Linked DNA regions of Homo sapiens. The protein of the gene in region 1 interacts with the protein of each later gene in a biochemical or structural test. Each region holds a gene or a part of one and is shown on either strand. Other genes may lie near its edges.

Region 1 (9,188 bases):
TACTTTCTTTTTTCTTTTCTTTTTTTTTTTTTTGAGAAGGAGTCTCACTCTGTCGCCCAGGCTGGAGGGCAGCGGCACGATCTTGGCTCACTGCAACCTCCGCCTCCTGAGTTCAAGAAATTCTCCTGCCTCAGCCTCCTGAGTAGCCTGGATGACAGGCACTCACCACCATCATGCTGGGCTAATTTTTGTATTTTTAGTAGAGACGGGGTTTTGCCATGTTGGCCAGGGTAGTCTCGAACTCCTGACCTCAGGTGATCCGCCCGGCTCAGCCTCCCAAAGTGCTGGGATTACAGGCGTGAGCCACTATGCCCGACCAATGCAGTTACTTTTATTTTTTTTGGACACAGGGTCTTGCCTTGTTCCCCAGGCTGGAGTGCAGTGGTGCGATCATGGCTCATTGCAGCCTCCAACTCCTGGGCTCAAGCGAGCCTCCCACCTCAGCCCCCCGAGTAGCTGGGATGACAGGTGCACATTGCCAAGCTCGGTTAATTTAAAATTTTTTTGTAGAGACGGGGTCTTGCTATGTTGCCCAGGTTGGTCTCAAAGTATCCTCTCTCCTTAACCTCCCAAAGTGTTGGGATTACAGGCGTGAGCCACTATGCCTGGCCTGCTCGCTCTTCTTTCAATGGTTCCCAGAGCCCTTTTCCGACCTGTGTTGATGGGGCAGGGGTGAGCACCTGGAAGTCCCTCTGGAGGGAAGAGGGCATTCCGCTCACTGACCTCCTTGAGGAACGTCCTCTGGGTCTCCTCGTCGAACCGGATCAGCTCCTTCATCACCATCACCTCACCTGTCTCACGGTGTGTCACCTGCGTGTGGGACACAGAGGTGTGAAGACAGAAGCTCTGCTGTAAGCCCGCCTTCTAGGAAGCCCCATCTCCACCCCAGGACTGCCAGGGAGATGTGCAGATGGCTTCATACTCTAGGCTGTGCATGGGATGTTCCCAAATACCCAAGTGGATGGGATGTATTAATCCCTTGTCTTTTTTTTTTTTTTTTTGAGATGGGGTCTTGCTCTATTGCCCAGGCTGGAGTGCTGTGGCATGATCATAGCTCACTGCAGCCTTGAACTCCTGGCTCACAATCCTCCTGCCTAAGCCTCCCAAGTAGCTGGGACCACAGGCATGCACCACTATACCCAATTAATTTTTAAATTTTTTGTAGAGATGATGTCAAGGCTGGTCTTGAATTCCTGGGCTCAAGCGATCCTACAGCCTTAGCCTCTCATGGTGCTGGGATTACAGGGATAAACTACTGTGCCTGGCTAGGAGCCACCTTTCAATGACCTCCCGCACATAAGGTCTCAGTCTACCTGTAGGAGGTCCCCTGTTCCTAATTAGCTCCAGGAGGCCAAGGGAGGAGAGGGCACTGGCCAGGGAGTCTGGAAGCCAGATACCCCTTCCACTGTGTTTCCATAGACTGGGAAGGAAGGAGGATGGAGGGGTCCCACCCAGACTGTCCCCTGAGACCCTGGCATGCTCTGTACCTTGATAGCCTGGCCGAAGCAGCCCTTGCCCAGCACCTCCCCGTGGATGAGGTCCGACGGCCGGAAGATGCGGTGTGGCCGGCAGACTACGCGGAGGGACTCAGAGCGACCCAGGTCCTTGCGCTGGGAGGCCGGGGAGCCCAGTGAGCCAGCGCCCGGAGACCTGTCGATGCTGCAGCTCCTCCTGGGGGGCACACATGGTGCCAAGTGCCACCGGGGGACAGGTAGCACCCGGCCAAGGCCCTGCCCCTTCCTCCTCCTGCCTGCATGCCCCTGTCCATGCCAGTCTATGCAATCACCCCCTGCTTTGGGAGGGCCCGCCTGGGACAGTCCAAAGGCTGCCCATCCCAGTGTCTCGGCCTATCCTGGCTCTAGTGGCAGCCCCCAGCTCCCCTCAACCCCTCAGATCCTGCTCTGTCATCCTCTTTTTTTTTGAGACAGAGTCTCACACTGTTGCCCAGGCTGGAGTATAGTGGCGTGACCTTGGCTCACTGCAACCTCCATCTCCTGGGTTCAAGTGATTCATCTGCCTCAGCCTCCTGAGTAGCTGGGACTACAGGCACCTGCCACCAAGCCCGGCTAATTTTTGTATTTTCAGTAAAGATGAGGTTTCCCATGTTGGCCAGGCTGGTCTTGAACTCCTGACCTCAGGTGATCCACCTGCCTCGGCCTCCCAAAGTGCTGGGATTACAGGCATGAGCCACCACGCCTGGCCCCGTCCCCGGCTTTTTAAAAAATGTGTGTTTCCTCTTTTTTTTTGAGAGTGGGTCTTGTTTTGTCACCCAAGCTGGAGAGCAGTGGTGTGATGACAGCTTACTGCAGCCTCCACCTCCCTGGCTCAAGCCTGGGCTGCATTTGTGCAGGGCTGGCTCCCCGACCTAGGTCCCACAGCCCCTGAGCCCCAGCAGGAGTGAAAGCACCCAGCTGAACCGAGGAGCAGGCTGACTTACAAGACAGGTTTCTGCCGGGCAGAGCTGCCCGCCTCCCCGCTGGGAGTATAAGCCGGAGAGCTCAGGGGGCTGGTCTCAGGCCCCAGCCCGTGGCCCAGTGTATCGTGAGGGTCATGCTCGAGGGTCAGCTGGAGCAGGCGGCTGGTTTCCTGAATCAGCAGGTCAATCTGGGGACAGCAGGCATGTGAATGGGGGTGGAGTGGGGAGGGGGCTAGGCATGAAGGCACTACCTCCCGTCCTGCCCCACAGACTCAGGACCGTACCTCGTCCAGGGGCACATTTCGGATGGGCGTGCCATTGATTTCCAAGATCCGGTCTCCGACGTGGATGGAATTCTTCACATCTGGGCTCATGCAGCCCGGATCCACTCTGTGGGTAAGGCAGGGGTCAGGCCAGTGCCCACCTGTCCCTCAGAGCCCCAACAGGAAACCAAGGCGAAGGGCACCAGATCCAGGGTGAGCAGGTGGAGGATTCTACTTCGTGTGACTGGGAAGTAGCAGATGGCCAGAACACCGAGTTCTGGTTTCAGGGGAGGAATTCTGTAATCAATTACTGATGTCTGCCACAGGTGTGAGCTGGAGAAAGGTGGCACGCTTGTAGGCACTGGCCACCCACACAAGATGCTCAGCTGTTCCCATTCAATGGACCATTGTCTCCACCCTGGGGGAACAGATCTATCCTTCCAAATCCCAGGTATGTTTGGTCTCGAATTTTTTTTTTTTTTTTTTTTGGAGACAGAATCTCACTCTGTTACCCAGGCTGGAGTGCAATGGCACAATCTCAGCTCACTGCAGCCTCTGCCTCCTGAGTTCAAGCGATTCTCGTACCTCAGCCTCCTGAGTAGCTGGGATTACAGGTGCACACCACCACACCCAGCTAATTTTTTTTGTATTTTTAGTAGAGACGGGGTTACACCACATTTCCCAGGCTGGTCTCGAACTCCTGAGCTCATGCAATCCGCCCGCCTTAGCCTCCCAAAGGGCTAGGACTGGCCGGGCGCAGTGGCTCACACCTGTAATCCCAACAGTTGGGGAGGCCAAGGTGGATGGATTACTTGAAGTCAGGAGTTTGAGACCAGCCTGGCCAACATGGTGAAACGCCGTCTCTACTGAAAATACAAAAATTAGCCGAGCGTGGCAGTGGGCGCCTGTAGTCCTAGCTACTTGGGAGGCTGAGGCAGGAATTGCTTGAACCTGGGAGGTGGAGGTTGCAGTGAGTCAAGATTCTGCCACTGCACTCCAGCCTGGGTGGACAGAGCGAGACTCCGTCGCAAAAACAAAGTGCTAGGATTACAGACATGAGTCATTGCACCTGGCCTGCCTGGTATGCTTGGGGCAGATGAGTGCCTTGGGTCCCAAAAAGGTCCCGGATTAGTGGCTTCATATCTGACTCCCAAACTCGCCCTGCAAGAGGAGGCCAAGCTCTATTGCTCCTGCATTGGCAGGAGGGAGCTGGCAGCTTGCCCTGAGCCACAATTGCAGGGTGAAGACGGGAAAGAGACCCTCGATCAGTTGCCTATAAGCTAACTCACAAAAAGACCAATTTGCCAAATTTACTTATTTCTTTTAACTCTTCGGTGTTAGGGACCTGGTTTTCTTTTCTTTTCTTTTTTTTTTTTGAGACAGAGTTTTGCTCTTGTTGCCCAGGCTGGAGTGCAATGGAGTGATCTCGGCTCATTGCAACTTCCGCCTCCCAGGTTCAAGTGATTCTCTTGCCTCAGGCTCCTGAGTAGCTGGGATTACAGGCATGTGCCACCATGCCTGGCTAATTTTGTATTTTTAGTACAGATGGGGTTTCTCTATGTTGGTCAGGCTGGTCTTGAACTCCTGACCTCAGGTAATCCACCCACCTTGGCCTCCCAAAGTGCTGGGATTATAGGCGTGAGCTGGTTTTCATTTTGCCTCATAAAAGCTTTTTAGGGAATGCTCACTTTGTCTCTGCCCTAGGTCCTGGAGATGGAAAAGGGGATGGGGGTAAGGCAGAGAGGAGACTGAGAACTTTAAGAAAAACAGGGCCAGGTGTGGTGGCTCATGCCTGGAATCCCAGCACTTTGGGAGGCCAAGGTGGGAGGATTGCTTGAGACTAGGGGTTTGAGACCAGCCTGGGCAGCATAGCAAGACCCCATCTCTATGACATTTTTTACAGAAAATTAGCTGAGCATGGTGGCACACTCCTGTAATCCCAGCTATTTGGGAGGCTGAGGTGGGAAGATCACTTGAGGTCAGGAGTTCGAGACCAGCCTGAGCAAAATAGTGAGACCTCACCATTACAAAAAATAAAAAATTAGCCAGGCATGGTGGTGCTGCCTGTAGTCCCAGCTACTCGAGAGGCTGAGGCAGGAGGATCGCTTGAGCCCATGAGGTCGAGGCTGCAGTGAGCTATGATCATGTCACTGCACTCCAGCCTGGGCAACAGAGTGAGACCCTATCTCAAAAAAACAACCAAGCAAACAAAAAGACTATTCTCGTATGGGGGAGAAGCTCTTCCTTACAGTAACAAATGCAGAAGGAAGAACAGAGTTAGAAATTCAGCATTTGGTAGCCACCCTAGTAATAATCGCTACAGGCAAGAATCATCAATAGATGCTCAAATCATTTGGGGAAGGGTTTTTGGGAACAGGATATTTACAGACTCAAATCTCACAAATGGTTTATTGATGACAAAGGGAAAAAAATCCTTACAGTACAGAAAAAACAAGTAATCAAAGTGAACATCCTCAGCAAAGGGCACACTGACATCATATGTCTCCTGGCAAGATCCACTCGGAAGGACAGAGGATCACTTATGCAGTATCAGGCCAAACCTGCAGAGCCTGTCTCCCTAAGAGGAAACATCAGTCAAACCCAAATGCGAGGGCAGGTACGATGGCTCACGCCTGTAATCCCAGCACTTTGGGAAGCTGAGGCGGGAGGATCACTTGAGCCTAGGAGTCTGAGACCAGCCTGGGCAACACAGTGAGACCCTGTCTCTTTTTAAAAAAAAAAAAAAAAAAAAGGAAAAACATTTTACTTTAATGACTGGCCTGTACACTTCAAAAATGTCAAGATCATGAAGGGCAATGAAAGGCTGAGGAAATGGCCAGACGCAGTGGCTCATGCCTGTAAACCCAGCATTTTGGGAGGCTGAGGTGGGTGGATCATTTGAGGTCAGGAGTTCAAGACCAGCCAGGGCAACATGGTAAAACCCCGTCTCTAATAAAAATACAAAAATTAGGCATGCATAATGGTGCACGCCTGTAATCTCAGCTACTTAGGAGGCTGAGGCAGGAGAATCACTTAAGCCCAAAGGCGGAGGTTGCAATAAGCCAAGATTGCGCCATTGCGCTCCAACCTGGGCAACAAGAGCAAAATTCCGTCTCAAAAAAAAAAAAAAAAAAGATACTGATGACACATGACGATTAAATGCAATGTTGATCATGGACTGGACTGTGGATGAGGGGGAGATTGCTATAAAGGACAGCTCAGTAGTTCAGTATAGAGACAATAGGCAAAATTTGAATATGGTCTGTGTATTAGATAATGGTATCAATGTTACATTTCCAAAATGTGATCACTGAACTATAAGATACAATTGATAATTACATAACAGAATGCCTAGCCAGGCGTGGTGGCCCGTGCCTGTAGTCCCAGCTACTTGGGAGGCAGAGGTGGGAGGATCACTTGAGCCTGGGAGGTTGAGGCTGCAGTGAGCTGTGATCGCATCACTGCACTCCAGCCTCAATGACAGTGATACCCTGTCTCCAAAAAAAAAAAAAAAAAAGAGAAGGTCCTTCTTTTGAGAATATCTAGCATAATTGTGGGGGAGTCAATGATCCCTGCAACTTACTCCCAAACGATCAATAAATAACAACATGTACATGTATGTACAAATATAAACAAGTCACTAAACATGTATATGTATCTGTATCCATATATGTATATATAGAGAGACACACATATAACTCCCAAATATGGCAGTTACGAATTGGTGAACCTTGGTGAAGGGTGTGTATGTATTCAATGGACTTATTATTTTAGCAAATTTTCTATAAATCTGCAAAATGCGAAGATGAAAAGTTGAAAAAAACCAAAGAAAATATTTTCATTGATACAGGCTTTGCATGCATATAACCTTAAAAATAAGCCAGGCATAGTGGCTCACGCTTGTAATCCTAGCACTTTGGGAAGCCAATGTGGGAGGATTGCTTGAGCCCAGGAGTTCAAGACTAGCCTGGGCGACACAGCAAGACTCAGTCTCTACAAAAAATTAAAAAATTAGCTGGGTGTGGTGGTGTGTGCCTGTAGTCTCACTACTCAGGAGGCCGAGGTGAGTGGATTGCTTGAGCACAGGCATCTGAGGCTATAGTGAGCTATGATTGTGCCACTGCACTCCAGCCTGTATGACAGAGCAAGACCCTGTCTCAAAAAAAAATTGTGTGTCTATATATATATATATATATATATGACATACATATGTAAATTCCTTAGAATCTCACATCCTCTCCCTTGGTTTGCTAAAGCAGCAGGTGGCCTGGATAAATTAGACCTTCCTTAAAACGCTGCTATACACAAAATGAAAAGCGGTCAACTAAAACCAGTTTAAAACAAATAAGTAAATCTTTGGCAAGTTGGGCTCTTTCTGGGAAGGGTGTGGCTCTTTGCAGAACTGGGATGTTCCAGATGTTGGCTGGGCGAATGCTTACCCAGTGAGGCAGACAGGGAGGAGACGTCATTAACTGTCTTCTTCATTTTTATTTTAGAGATAGGGTCTCGCTCTGTCGCCCAAGCTGGAATGCATGGTGTCATCATAGCTTGCTGCAGCCTCCACCTCCTGGGCTCAAGCAATCCTCTCACCTCAGCCCTCCGAAGTGGCTGAGATAACAGGCATGAGCCGCTGCACCCAGCTGACTGTCTTCATTTCTAAAATTCTGCCTGGATTTCAGGGACCAGCTGCAGCCTCTGACTCTGTGGGGACCTCCCTTGGCCCTCTGGTAAGAGCCGTTGGTCTGGGAGTTTCCTCATCTCTTTCAAGCAGCTGTCTGCTCATCATGTATGTAAAGCAGCTGCTGGCTTGGCTGATGTCAAGGGATGGAGACACACAGTCAAGCCCAGTATAATTTTCTGTCCCCAGGGCCACCTTCACATCTCAACAGTGCCTATGCAGTGCCAGGCACCTGCCAGGTGTACAAGAAACATTCACTGCGTCAAATGAAAGCTAGCACTTGGTAGGGCCGGGCGTGGTGGCTCATGCCTGTAATCGCAGCACTTTGGGAGGCCGAGACGGGCGGATCACGAGGTCAGGAGATCGAGACCATCCTGCCTAATATGGTGAAACCCTGTCTCTACTAAATATAAAAAAAAAATTAGCCGGGCATGGTGGCAGGTGCCTGTAGTCCCAGCTACTCGGGAGGCTGAGGCAGGAGAATGGCGTGAACCCAGGAGGCGGGGCTTGCAGTGAGCCGAGACCACACCACTGCACTCCAGCCTGGGCGACAGAGCGAGACTCCGTCTCGAAAAAAAAAAAAAGAGAGAGAGAAAGCTAGCACTTGGGCCGGGCACGGTGGCTCACACCTGTAATCCCGGCACTTTGGGAGGCCGAGAAGGGAGGATCACTTGAGCCCAGGAGTTTGAAACGAGCCTGGCCAACATGGTGAAACCCTGTCTTTACTAAAAATACAAAAATTAGCCACATGTGGTCACCTGTAGTCCCAGCTACTCAGGGGGCTGAGGTGCAAGAATTGCTTGAACCTTGTGGGTGGAGGTTGCAGTGAGCTGGTATCACACCACTGCACCCCAGACTGGGCGACAGAGTGAGACTGTCTCAAAAAAAAAGAAGTGACCAATTGCCCAAAAGTAGAAACACTGCATGCTACTTCTCAAGGTGTCAATAAAGGCGCCACAGAAATCTTAGAAAGCTCCAAGGTATCCAACTCCCTCATTGTTCAAACAGACCCCCAAAGCCTAGAGAGAAAGCAGCTGCTCAAAGTCACACAGTAATCTAATCTTTATCAGCCCTGCCCCATTTTTTTGAGACAGGGTTTTGCTCCATTGCCCAGCCTAGAGTGCAGTCGTGCAATTATAGCTCACTGTAGCCACTTCCTGGGCTCAAGAGATCCTTCTGCCTCAGCCTCCCAAGTAGCTGTGACTACAATGTTTCCCAGGCTGGTTTCGAACTCCTGGCCTCAAGTGATCCTCCCATCTCAGCCTCCCAAAGTGTTTCGATTATAAGTGTGAGCAACCATGCCCAGCCTTTATGTGTTCAGTGATTTCACCATGCCTGGCTAATTTTTAATTTTTTTTTTTTTTTTGTAGACATGCAGGTCTCGCTATGTTGCCCAAGCTGGTCTCAAACTTCTGGCCTTAAGTGATCCTCTCACTTTGGCCTCCCAAAGTGCTGAGATTACAGGTGTGAGTTACTGCGCCCAGCTTCTTCACTCATTCTTGACTTGGTTCCTCCTCTTTCTTGTTGGATCAGACATGGACTAAAGAAAATGTCTTTTTATTTTTTGAGTGTGTTTTTTTTATTTTTATTTTTTTGATACAGAGTTACACTCTTGTTGCCCAGCCTGGAGTGCAATGGCAGTCGGGGCTCACTGAAACCTCCACCTCCTGGGTTCAAGTGATTCTCCTGCCTCAGCCTCCCAAGCAGCTGGCACTATAGGCACACACTACCATGCCTGGCTACGTTTGTATTTTTAGTAGAGACGGGGTTTCACCACATTGCCCAGGCTGGTCTCGAACTCCTGACCTCAGGTGATCCACCCACTTCGGCC
Region 2 (6,893 bases), on another chromosome or scaffold:
CTTCTAGCAAGGTCCCTGGTTGCATGTATTTCCTAAGAGCAGAGTTTATTTCTCTTTACATTCCCTGCTTCCTTGCTCTCCATGCAGGGACCCCAGCCAACCTCTGGGCTGTTGAATAGCTCTCTGCTGGGTGGCAAGCCCTTCTCCTTGGCACCCTGTTGCTTAAGCATACAGATTGCTCACCAGGTGCACACAGACAGCTGTACTGTCCAAGCCCATTCTGCTCCACCCTGTCCTCTTCAGCTAAAGAGCATTCCAGTAATCTAAAGCCCTTTTCCCCTGGAGAAGTCCAGAGTTTGCAGCAGTGTGGAGCTGAGCTTGAACAGAACAGACCCTCAGCACGGCCCTGGACTAATGCACTCTTATCTGAGGGCAGTCCATTCTAGAAGGTTGATGAATTTCCCTACCACTCTCCTGGGGACCTTTTCTCTCTAGTGGGAACAAATGCTACATAATTTAGTCAAGATCCTATTAAGTCATCTCACCTGAGGCATCTGGAGAGGGAGTTGCCTTCCATTGGTGGGAAATTGTTGGTGCCAGAATACATTTTGCCCAAAACTCTTCTCATTGGCTGGCCACCTAGCAGGGCTCCTCTAAACACGCAACTCAGCGAGGGGACCCCCTTCACCTCTGGCAAGAGAGCTGGGTAGATCAGAAACTTGGTGACACCTGGCTAGCACAGAGCAGGCTCACTTGTCTTGGTCCCACTACCCAGATTCCTGCAGACATTGCAAACCAAATGAAGGTTGTTGAATGACCCCTGTCCCCAGCCACTTGTTTTGTTATCATCTGCTCTGCAGTGGAATGCCTGTGTGTTTGAGTTCACTCTGCATCTGTATATTTGAGTATAGAAACCGAGTCAAGTGATCATGTGCATCCAGACACACTGTGTCACCTGAGCCACAGAGCAAATCACCTTAACGATCTGGAATGAAACTGTGACCAGTGCCGCCCTGGGTGGTTCTGGAGAGACTGCCGTCTTCTTGTTTGGCCATAGGTGCTGGGGCCCCGGCTTCAGTCACTGTCTCAGACAGGAGTCCCGATAAGCAGATCACCAGTCCTCCACTGTCCTTCCTGTCGGCCTTGCTGCATGAGAAGATAGCTGCTTCCTCCCTCTTTTCCTACACTGTAATTATTGTTTTACAATTGAGTGCCTTAATAATAGTTTACAAATACTATGTATTTATGCAAAACTGTTAAAGTCTCATCTGTTATGATTGGATACTTGGTCTTGTCAGTAGTGGTCAGCATTGGGTTGTGAGCTTGTCCTACTCCATACGTGTTTATCCTGCTATGCAGTTTTACATTGTGTGTTCACATCTATTCCAAGGAGCCTTGCTAGAAACAACACTGGCGGTTCCTGCAGGCCAGGCAGGCATTGGCCCATGCTGTGTCCCATAGGAGCCAATGAAAGAACGTAGCTTGGTCTGCTAGCCAGCCGTGGGGTGGCGCAGGCCAGGCAGCCTCTGCACCAGAGTCCAGCACCTGCCCATTCCCCAGTCACACAATCATACTCTTCTTTCATAGAGATTTTATTACCACCTAGACCACCCTAGTTTTCCTCTCTGTTAGTGTCCTGAGCTCTTTTGCAACAAAATGTAGGTACAGACCAATCCCTGTCCCTTCCCCAATCAGGAGCTCCACACCATGAGTTGTTTGGTTTTCCAGAAGCTGCCAGTGGGTTCCCGTGAATTGCGTTAAGATATCGATGATTTTTTTTATTGTTTTTCTTCTTGTTTTTTTAAATAATATATTTAAAGGCAGTATCTTTTGTACTGTGAATTTGCAGTAGAAGATGCAGAATGCACTTTTTTTTTACTTCTGTTGGTGTGTATTGTATATAGTGTGTGTGCTTCTTGTGATGAAAATAAACTTTTTCTTTATAAATTCCTGATGACTGAGTTTATATAAAAGGAAACTGCTTCCTCAGCCCTTGCCAAAACAGTCTGATACATCGTCATCATCATCGTCATTGACATGGCCAGTCTTTATTGAGCATCTATTACATGCTCAGTTCTTTGCTAGAAAACCTGGACAAGTTACACCAAAGAAAGGACCACAGGAAGAAATGATAGTTCCTCCTGGAACTAGTCTGTTTTCTTTCTAATTTTGTCAGTAAGCAAGAACAGGCCCACCTGTGGGTGGTCCTTTGTGTACCAAAAAAAAAAAGTTACCCACCAGGAAAGGATTTGGACTTTGGGTGGGTTCTCTTCCCGTACAAGTAGGAAATGTAAAGCCAGAGGTGTGCACTAAAGAACATCTAACCTGCTCCCACCAGCCCTGGTGGGAGAGGGAGGACCCTGGAGGCTAAGTACTGCTGGTTTCCAAGGTGCATGCTCATGTCCCAGTCCACTTCACCCCAGGCAGCTTTTGGTGGCTCTTCTCCCTTGGACACTCAGGAGGCAGAGCTGCTTCCATTTTTTTTTTTTTAATTTTTTTTTTTTTTTTTTTGAGACTGGGTCTGGCTCTCTTGCTCAGGCTGGAGTTCAGTGGTGCCATCATAGCTCACTGCAACCTCGACTTCCTAGGCTAAAGTGATCCTCCTGCCTCAAGCAATCCTCCCACCTCAGCCTCCCCAGTAGCTGGGACTACAGGCGTGCACCACCTTGCCCCGCTAATTTTTACAATTTATTATAGACATGAAGTCTCGCTTTGCTGCCCAGGCTGGTCTTTAATTCCTGTCTTCAAGTGATCCTCCCACCTTGGCCTCCCAAAGTGCTGGGATTACAGGTGTGAGCCACCTCAACTTCCATCTTAAAATTCTGCCTCCTTAGAGTTCTTTGCTTTCTGCTGTGTAGTCAGGGAGGAGTCACATTCACTCAGTCTCCTCTGTCTGGATGCGATACATCATTTCTACTTGCTTTCCAGTGGGCAGGGCCCAGTCACAGGGTCCCAATGCAACAGCCAGGGAGACTGGGAAATGTATGGGGCACATGTATTTGGTGAGCACTAACTGTCACAAGTACCTGGGCGTGACCCCTAAATTCCAGTGCCTGCAGAGCCAGGAAGTATTTTGTTCAGTTCATCTGGACTTGCTCTGTCTCTCAACTGGACTCAAAAGACTGATGAATAAACCAGAATGCAAGTTTATTACTTTACCAAAAGAATTATAATCATCAAGCAGACCAGATTGCTCACATGCTGATTAGCACATTTAGTCCTGCTAGGTAAGTCTTTCTTTTTTTGAGACAGCCTGGAGTGCAGTGGCAGTCATGGCTCACTGAAGTGTTGATCTCCTGGGCTCCAGCAATCCTGCCTCAGCCTCCCAAGTAGCTGGGACCAGAGCCACACACTGCTGCACCCAGCTAAATTTATTTATTTATTTATTTAAAAGATAGGGTCTCACTATGTTGCCCAGACTGGTCTTGAACTCCTGGTTTCTGATGATCCTCCTGCCTCAGCCTCCCAAAGTGTTGAGATTATAGGCATGAGCCACTGTGCCCAGCCCCTTCTAGGTAAATCTCTATGGGGTGCCAAATTTTGGTTAAGAATTGCTTATTGAATATTAAAAGTTTAGTGGGATGCTTCTTTTTTTTTTTTCTTTTGAGATGGAGTTTAGCTCTTGTTGCCCAGACTGGAGTGCAATGGTGTGATCTCAGCTCACCGCAACCTCTGCCTCCTGGGTTCAAGTGATTTTCCTGCCTCAGCCTCCCGAGTAGCTGGGAATACAGGCATGTGCCACCACGCCTGGCTAATTTTGTATTTTTAATCGAAATGGGGTTTCTCCATGTTGGTCAGGCTGTTCTCAAACTCCCAACCTCAGGTAATCCACCCGCCTTGGCCTCCCAAAGTGCTGGGATTATAGGCATGAGCCACCGCGCCAAGCCACAGGATGCTTCTAATAGTGTTATCAAGCTATAATGCAGCCCTCTCTGTAAAATGTTTTAAAAACAAATCACTGAGGGTCATGGTTCAAGACACTGTTCTCTGGCAAGGTTGAAGATAGCTAACAAATTCTCTTTGGGTTCCAGCCATGAATGGGGTGGGATGGGCCCCAGCAATCTGTATGTTTCTGAGATTCCCTGGGAATTCTGATGGCCAAGTTTAGAAACCATCAAAATAAGAATATGATGCAACTGAGTAGGCTCACGCTTTGCTAATTACATTGCACACATGCTTTTTGGAGACAACACCCACACTACCCTAACAATGTGTGTTCATAAAACTCATCCGATACTTATTTGTTCAAGGCCCTAGGACAATATTCCTGTAATGGGCTGCTTTTGCCCTGATTTCCTCCTCAGAGTAACTGTCTCGCGGTTGGGCACGATCCCAGATCACATCTACAGTGGAGGTGGTTTTGCTGGGGAGGATCCGCATGCTTGTTTGTGTTTATGCCTGGGGAACCCCCTCTTGGCAAGATGTTCGGGAGAGGCTCCAAAGGCAGCACAGAGGACGGCTTGGAACTTAGGGGGATTCACTTTATGGTAAAGAAGCCCTTTCTAAAGGAGAGCTCCACCCAGGAAACACCACCCACCCACGCATCCTTGCCTCCTAAAACCAGGTTATGTTTATCACATACCTTCTATGTGCTTTACATAAAGAATCCCCTGGAATTCTCCAAACTGGGCATTGTGGTCTGTGATGCATATCTCAAAAGAGGTGAGAGGGTTGGGCACGGTGGCTCACGCCTGTAATCCCAGCACTTTGGGAAGCCAAGGCAGGTGGATCACTTGAGGTCAGAAGCTCAAGACCAGCCTGGCTCACATGGTGAAACGCCGTCTCAACTAAAAATACAAAAATTAGCCGGGCATGATGGCGGGCGCCTGTAATCCCAGCTACTCGGGAGGCTGAGGCAGGAGAATCGCTTGAACCCAGGAGGTGGAGGTTGCTGTGAGCCAAGATTGCACCACTGCACTCCAGCCTGGGTGACAGAGTGAGACTCTGTCTCAAAAAACAAAAAAAAGAAAAAAAAAGGTAGAGGAGAGTCCTTTTTCTAACTTTCTTGAACTCTTTGGACTACCTTGGGATCCTTCTATTAACTGCCTTGTTGGCATTATTCTCAGTTTATGAAAAAACAGGCCCACAGAGTGGAAGTAATTTGCCTACAGGTACATCTAAAAATTGATGAAGCCAGATAGGAACTGCTCCCTCATCATCTGAAACCCTTCCCAGAGCTGTCTCTCCCACCCCAGAAGTAGAAAGAAGCCAGACAAAGATGCATCTTGATCTCCCTTGTGGTTTCAGCAAGGAAGCAGATGAGTTGGAGATGAAGCCCCCAGCCCCTGGGAAATTGGACCCACTTCTTGCTCCAAAGGCTATTGGGGTGACACAAGGTGTGTTTCTTTCCCGTAGATCATATTCACCATATTTTGCCTTTAAATGGAAATTGTGCATCCTGAAGTACCTTGTTAAGAGTCCATTTTCAACCTGAAATTCCTTTTTTTTGTAAACCACTTCAGCAAATACAGTGTGGCATTTACATTAGCAACCTCCCAGCCTAGGAGAGGATGCTCCAGCATCCGACTCTAAAAGACAAATTTGGGCACGGTGGCTTGACGCCTGTTATCCCAACACCTTGAGAGGCCGAGGCAGGCAGATTGCTTGAGCCCAGGAGTTCAAGACCAGCCCAGGTAACATGGTGAACCCCCATCTCTACCAATAATACAAAAATTAGCCAGGCATGGTGGTGTGCCAGTGGTCCCAGCTACTTGAGTGGCTGAGGTGAAGGATCTCCTGAGCCTGGGAGGCAGAGGTTGCAGTGAGCCGAGATCGAACCACTGCACTCCAGCTTATGCAACAGAGCAAGACCGTGTCTCAAAAACAAATAAAAATAAAAGATTTTAAAAAGACAAATTATCCCACAAATGGTACATTGTGGTGGTGGTGGTGGTGGTGGTGGTAGACCTCCCTCTTGCTCTTGAAATTGGATCAGAACAAACTGACAATGCTACCTACTTCATGGGGTCATTGGTGAATTCACTGATAATGCATGCAAATCCCCTTCTGCCTGGCACACTACCTAATAAATAAATGGTGGTTGTTATTGTTGGAATTGGAGGATATATTCCTAGTTGCAAGGGTTTCACATGTATTACCAAGTTAATCCTCACCGCAGATATGATTCTGTTTTACAGAGGAAGCAGTGGATGCTCAGAGAGGTTAGGTAACGTGGGTCAGGGACACACAGCCAGGAAGGGGCAGAGGCTGGGAGTGCCTGACTCCAAATTCATGCAATTTCTACCCCACCATCTTCTCCCCAAGGAAAATAGTCCCTAATGCATGTGTGCAATGCTTAGAGGGCAGTAGATGCTCAACAGATGCTGAGAGAGTGAGGGAGTAAATGAGATATGCCATGAAAAGGAGCCCCTGTGGACTTATGCGTGCGTTTGTTTAACTTGTGGGCAAGTACTTATAGACAGGTGCAAACAATAAATCTCCTTTTGCAACTGAGAACTTGTTGTTCAGTATGAGTTTTGATACATATAAGAAAGGCTATTATGATACCTAAGACAGTTAACTAAGGGAGGGAGTATTGATAACCATAAGTGTTAGTTGCAGGCTGGGCACAGTGGCTCATGCCTGCAGTCCTCTCACTTTGAGAGGCTGAGGTGGGAGGATTGCTTGAAGCCAGGAGTTCAAGACCAGCCTGGGCAAGAAAGCAACACCCCATCTCCACAAAACTTTAAAAGTTAGCTGGGTGTGGGGGCATGTGCCTATAGATGTAGCTACTCTAAAGGGGAGGCTGAGGCAGGAGGATTGCTTGAGCCCAGGAGTTGGAGACTGCAGTGAGCTTTGATGGCACCACTGTACTCCAGCCTAGTCAACAAAGTAAAACTTGTCTCTTAAAAAAAAAAAAAAAAACAAAAAAAAAGGTTCTAGGACTGTAGAATCATTAGCTTAAAAGCATAGGATTTGAGGGAAAACCTCAGTTATATTAATTTCGTATTCCA
Region 3 (4,877 bases), on another chromosome or scaffold:
CTTTTCGTTTCTGATAGCCCCTCCCAGGTCCAGCAGGGTTGCTATTTTTCTGTCTCTCTTTCTGTAGCCTGAGAATCTCTTATACACCTCCAAAAGGCCCAACGCCATCCTGAAACTCACTGACTTTGGCTTTGCCAAGGAAACCACCAGCCACAACTCTTTGACCACTCCTTGTTATACACCGTACTATGTGGGTAAGTCCACAGGGGGCCCAGGGACCTAGGCTTTTCCCAGAACTTTTCTCAGCCCCTCCTCTTGGCTATCTGGGGGGCCGCAAATCCTAGGAGAGTTGTGTCTGTATGGCCCCTTCTGGTGCTGGTTCTGCTGGGACCTGCTGAGAAGTAGGGCTTGTCAGAGCGAAGCTACAGTTGAGAAATTGTAGGAAAGGATCTGCTGGGATCTTTCTGAGAAGAGCCATGGTTTCCATCAGATTCTCCATGGAGTCTGGACCCAGGTCTTGTTCTGGAGCCACAGCTGATTGGCATGGAAGAAGCTTTCAAAGCATGTTCAGAGCATCTGTGAAATTAAATGAACGGCATGGGCCTGAAAGTCTCATGCAGTTCAGGATTTTTAGAATCTTAAGCTCCTAGTTCCAGGTTCCTCATGGAGGAGGATGTTCTGTTCCAGTCCCTGGGCTGGGCTTTGGCTCTTCCTTCTGTGCCCCAACTGCTGCCACCTCATGATAGGCTGAAAGGTTGGGATGGGGAGCATCTTTCACAGAGAAACTGAGTGGATCACAGGGTTCTGAGGGCCGGCCCACCCATGTTGACCTTTGATTTGCAGCTCCAGAAGTGCTGGGTCCAGAGAAGTATGACAAGTCCTGTGACATGTGGTCCCTGGGTGTCATCATGTACATCCTGTGAGTGTGCTGGGGAGGGGGCTGGGTGGGGCAGGGAGTCAGGGCGGCCTGTACTTCTCCAGGACAAGAGGAAGAGGCAGACGTTAGCATTCCCCTTTGTACAGGGGAGTCCCCTGCGTGCCCCTTCTCTCAGTTCCGATAGCTAAGTGGCGGGTGTAAACCAGCTCATGGGCTGGAAAGTGTGCGCCTTAGATACTTGCTATGCTGGATTCCCGGGCCCCGGGCTTGACTTTGTATATTGTGCCTGTGTCAATAAGCCCTGATTTCTCTGTGACCTTTACAAGGAGAAGAGCCTGTTTCTCATCCTGTTCCTGGTACAGGGCCACTAAGTGACAGCTGTTCTGTCTCCCACTTCCTTCCTCCTGTTGATGCAGGCTGTGTGGGTATCCCCCCTTCTACTCCAACCACGGCCTTGCCATCTCTCCGGGCATGAAGACTCGCATCCGAATGGGCCAGTATGAATTTCCCAACCCAGAATGGTCAGAAGTATCAGAGGAAGGTAAGAACCCAGGCTTTCAGGACAAGGGGAAGAGCCCGTGTGTGTGTGTGTGTGTGTATGTGTGTACACGCAGACACATGTATGGGCCTCCATCTCATGTGCGTGGTGTAACTGTGGGTTAGCACCTATGCCCACGCCTGCGGGGTGCGTCCTGCTTCATTTTGCCTGTGTGGAGGGCTGGAGGCAGGGCCAAGGCTGTGGGGCTGTGCAGGGCCTCTCAAGTGGTACAGCCGTAATGGTCCTTGGGGCCAGTTGCTCCGGCAGCCTGCCTCCATGCACCCCCTCTTTGAACCTGGTTTCCCCATGAAAACTGGGGAAAGGAGCAGGCCAGGGAGAGTGACCCCTGAGCTGTCACTGCCCCCTGTCCCACCCCACAGTGAAGATGCTCATTCGGAATCTGCTGAAAACAGAGCCCACCCAGAGAATGACCATCACCGAGTTTATGAACCACCCTTGGATCATGGTAAGCTCGGCAGGCTGGGGAGCCTTGGGTCTCACGGGACTATTCCACAGGACAGAGTCTTAGCCAGGACCCTACCCCAGGCTTTCACTCGGACCCCTTTTCTCTCTTCTCAGCAATCAACAAAGGTCCCTCAAACCCCACTGCACACCAGCCGGGTCCTGAAGGAGGACAAGGAGCGGTGGGAGGATGTCAAGGTGAGGGGCACCACTGGGTGAGAGGGGCTCCAGGTGGGGTGGGCGGCTTGCGGGGAGTGCCCAGGTGTGAGGCGTGGTGCTGGTAGGGGAGAGCTTGATTCTGCCTCTCTCATCCCAGGGGTGTCTTCATGACAAGAACAGCGACCAGGCCACTTGGCTGACCAGGTTGTGAGCAGAGGATTCTGTGTTCCTGTCCAAACTCAGTGCTGTTTCTTAGAATCCTTTTATTCCCTGGGTCTCTAATGGGACCTTAAAGACCATCTGGTATCATCTTCTCATTTTGCAGAAGAGAAACTGAGGCCCAGAGGCGGAGGGCAGTCTGCTCAAGGTCACGCAGCTGGTGACTGGTTGGGGCAGACCGGACCCAGGTTTCCTGACTCCTGGCCCAAGTCTCTTCCTCCTATCCTGCGGGATCACTGGGGGGCTCTCAGGGAACAGCAGCAGTGCCATAGCCAGGCTCTCTGCTGCCCAGCGCTGGGGTGAGGCTGCCGTTGTCAGCGTGGACCACTAACCAGCCCGTCTTCTCTCTCTGCTCCCACCCCTGCCGCCCTCACCCTGCCCTTGTTGTCTCTGTCTCTCACGTCTCTCTTCTGCTGTCTCTCCTACCTGTCTTCTGGCTCTCTCTGTACCCTTCCTGGTGCTGCCGTGCCCCCAGGAGGAGATGACCAGTGCCTTGGCCACAATGCGCGTTGACTACGAGCAGATCAAGATAAAAAAGATTGAAGATGCATCCAACCCTCTGCTGCTGAAGAGGCGGAAGAAAGCTCGGGCCCTGGAGGCTGCGGCTCTGGCCCACTGAGCCACCGCGCCCTCCTGCCCACGGGAGGACAAGCAATAACTCTCTACAGGAATATATTTTTTAAACGAAGAGACAGAACTGTCCACATCTGCCTCCTCTCCTCCTCAGCTGCATGGAGCCTGGAACTGCATCAGTGACTGAATTCTGCCTTGGTTCTGGCCACCCCAGAGTGGGAGAGGCTGGGAGGTTGGGAGGCTGTGGAGAGAAGTGAGCAAGGTGCTCTTGAACCTGTGCTCATTTTGCAATTTTATCAGTAATTTGACTTAGAGTTTTTACGAAACCTCTTTTGTTGTCCTTGCCCCACTCCTCTCCACCAGACGCCTTCCTCTCTGGATACTGCAAAGGCTTGTGGTTTGTTAGAGGGTATTTGTGGAAACTGTCATAGGGATTGTCCCTGTGTTGTCCCATCTGCCCTCCCTGTTTCTCCACAACAGCCTGGGGTTGTCCCCGCTGGCTCACGCGTTCTGGGAGCTCAAGGCCACCTTGGAGGAGGATGCCACGCACTTCCTCTCTCGGAGCCCTCAGACATCTCCAGTGTGCCAGACAAATAGGAGTGAGTGTATGTGTGTGTGTGTGTGTGTGTGTGTGCACACGTGTGTATGAGTGCGCAGATCTGTGCCTGGGATCGTGCATTTGAGGGGCCAGGGGCAGGCAGGGCTGCAGAGGGAGACGGCCCTGCTGGGGCTTAGGAACCTTCTCCCTTCTTGGGTCTGCCCTGCCCATACTGAGCCTGCCAAAGTGCCTGGGAAGCCCACCCAGATTCTGAAACAGGCCCTCTGTGGCCTGTCTCTATTAGCTGGGTTCCGGGAGGCAGAGAGGAGTGACCGGGCACTGGCACTGCGATCAGGAAGACTGGACCCCCAGCCCCCAGGGCCCCCCTCCCCCCACTTAGTGCTGGTCCTAGGTCCTCTGAGGCACTCATCTACTGAATGACCTCTCTACTTCCCCTTCTTGCCATTATTAACCCATTTTTGTTTATTTTCCTTAAATTTTTAGCCATTTCTCCATGGGCCACCGCCCAGCTCATGTAGGTGAGCCTGGGCAGCTTCTGTTGGCAGAGCTTTTGCATTTCCTGTGTTTGTCCTGGGTTCTGGGGCATCAGCCAGCTACCCCTTGTGGGCAAAGGCAGGGCCACTTTTGAAGTCTTCCCTCAGATTTCCATTGTGTGGCCTGGTGGGTCAGGGGGAGTCTTTGCACCAAAGATGTCCTGACTTTGCCCCCTTGCCCATCAGCCATTTGCCATCACCCCAAACAACTCAGCTTCGGGGCCGGTGAGGGGAGGGGCCTCCCCCAGCACAGATGAGGAGCAGCTGGGGTAGGCTGTCTGTGCCATGGCCCCCCACTCCCCCTTCCCTTGGAGGGAGAGGTGGCAGGAATACTTCACCTTTCCTCTCCCTCAGGGGCAGGTGGTGGAGGGGCGCCCAGGGTCGTCTTTGTGTATGGGGGAAGGCGCTGGGTGCCTGCAGCGCCTCCCTTGTCTCAGATGGTGTGTCCAGCACTCGATTGTTGTAAACTGTTGTTTTGTATGAGCGAAATTGTCTTTACTAAACAGATTTAATAGTTGAGAGTTTTTCTTTCTCTTTCTTCCTGGGGCTCAGGCCTTACCCCCCACCGCCTCTATGTGCAGAGGGGTTTTGTTGGGTGGTGAGGGTGTGGGTTGGGGGTCCTGGGAGAGGAGCGGAGGGCCTCCTGGGCGAGCAGGAGCCAGCACCTCATTGGTGAGGACCTGGGCAGGATGTGTGTAGGGCATCCTTAAAGCAGGACAGGGAGGCTGCAAGGGCTCAAGCCCATCTTCTTTTGCCAAATGCAGAATCAGGAGCCAAGCTCTTTTTGGCATATGATTCTTTGACCTACATAGCCACCACCAGGTGCTGGCACCTTTAGCCTGCGAAAGCCAGCTGGTATAGGGTCCAGGGAAGAGGGGGTGCTGGTGAATTTGGTTGAAATCCTGGTAAAGATACCAGGGGAGCAGGTTAGTGTAGTACCGGCACTCTCCAGGAGGCGGTGATAGGGGTCAGGCAGAAACCAAAGGCTCTACCTCGGAGCTAGAAGAGACTTCATGG

What was found. Proteins that work in one complex are often made in the same cells at the same time.
Region 2: the proteins of LIMK1 (region 1) and SSH1 form a complex in vitro, tested with the Homo sapiens proteins (one study listed by IntAct).
Region 3: of the proteins of LIMK1 (region 1) and MAPKAPK2, one has a biochemical effect on the other in vitro, tested with the Homo sapiens proteins (one study listed by BioGRID and IntAct).

Annotation. Positions count from the first base shown.
Region 1 is NC_000007.14:74,099,493-74,108,680, reverse strand, and holds part of LIMK1 (LIM domain kinase 1), read right to left. Parts: intron 2,807-9,188; coding exon 2,701-2,806; intron 2,605-2,700; coding exon 2,438-2,604; intron 1,672-2,437; coding exon 1,488-1,671; intron 811-1,487; coding exon 724-810; intron 1-723. UniProt on the Homo sapiens protein: Serine/threonine-protein kinase that plays an essential role in the regulation of actin filament dynamics. Acts downstream of several Rho family GTPase signal transduction pathways.
Region 2 is NC_000012.12:108,777,691-108,784,583, reverse strand, and holds the end of SSH1 (protein phosphatase Slingshot homolog 1), read left to right. Parts: 3' UTR 1-6,393; downstream 6,394-6,893. UniProt on the Homo sapiens protein: Protein phosphatase which regulates actin filament dynamics. Dephosphorylates and activates the actin binding/depolymerizing factor cofilin, which subsequently binds to actin filaments and stimulates their disassembly.
Region 3 is NC_000001.11:206,729,905-206,734,781, forward strand, and holds the end of MAPKAPK2 (MAP kinase-activated protein kinase 2), read left to right. Parts: intron 1-67; coding exon 68-194; intron 195-783; coding exon 784-859; intron 860-1,233; coding exon 1,234-1,358; intron 1,359-1,735; coding exon 1,736-1,821; intron 1,822-1,934; coding exon 1,935-2,015; intron 2,016-2,133; coding exon of another isoform or gene 2,134-2,187; exon of another isoform or gene 2,188-2,670; coding exon 2,671-2,814; 3' UTR 2,815-4,377; downstream 4,378-4,877. UniProt on the Homo sapiens protein: Stress-activated serine/threonine-protein kinase involved in cytokine production, endocytosis, reorganization of the cytoskeleton, cell migration, cell cycle control, chromatin remodeling, DNA damage response and transcriptional regulation.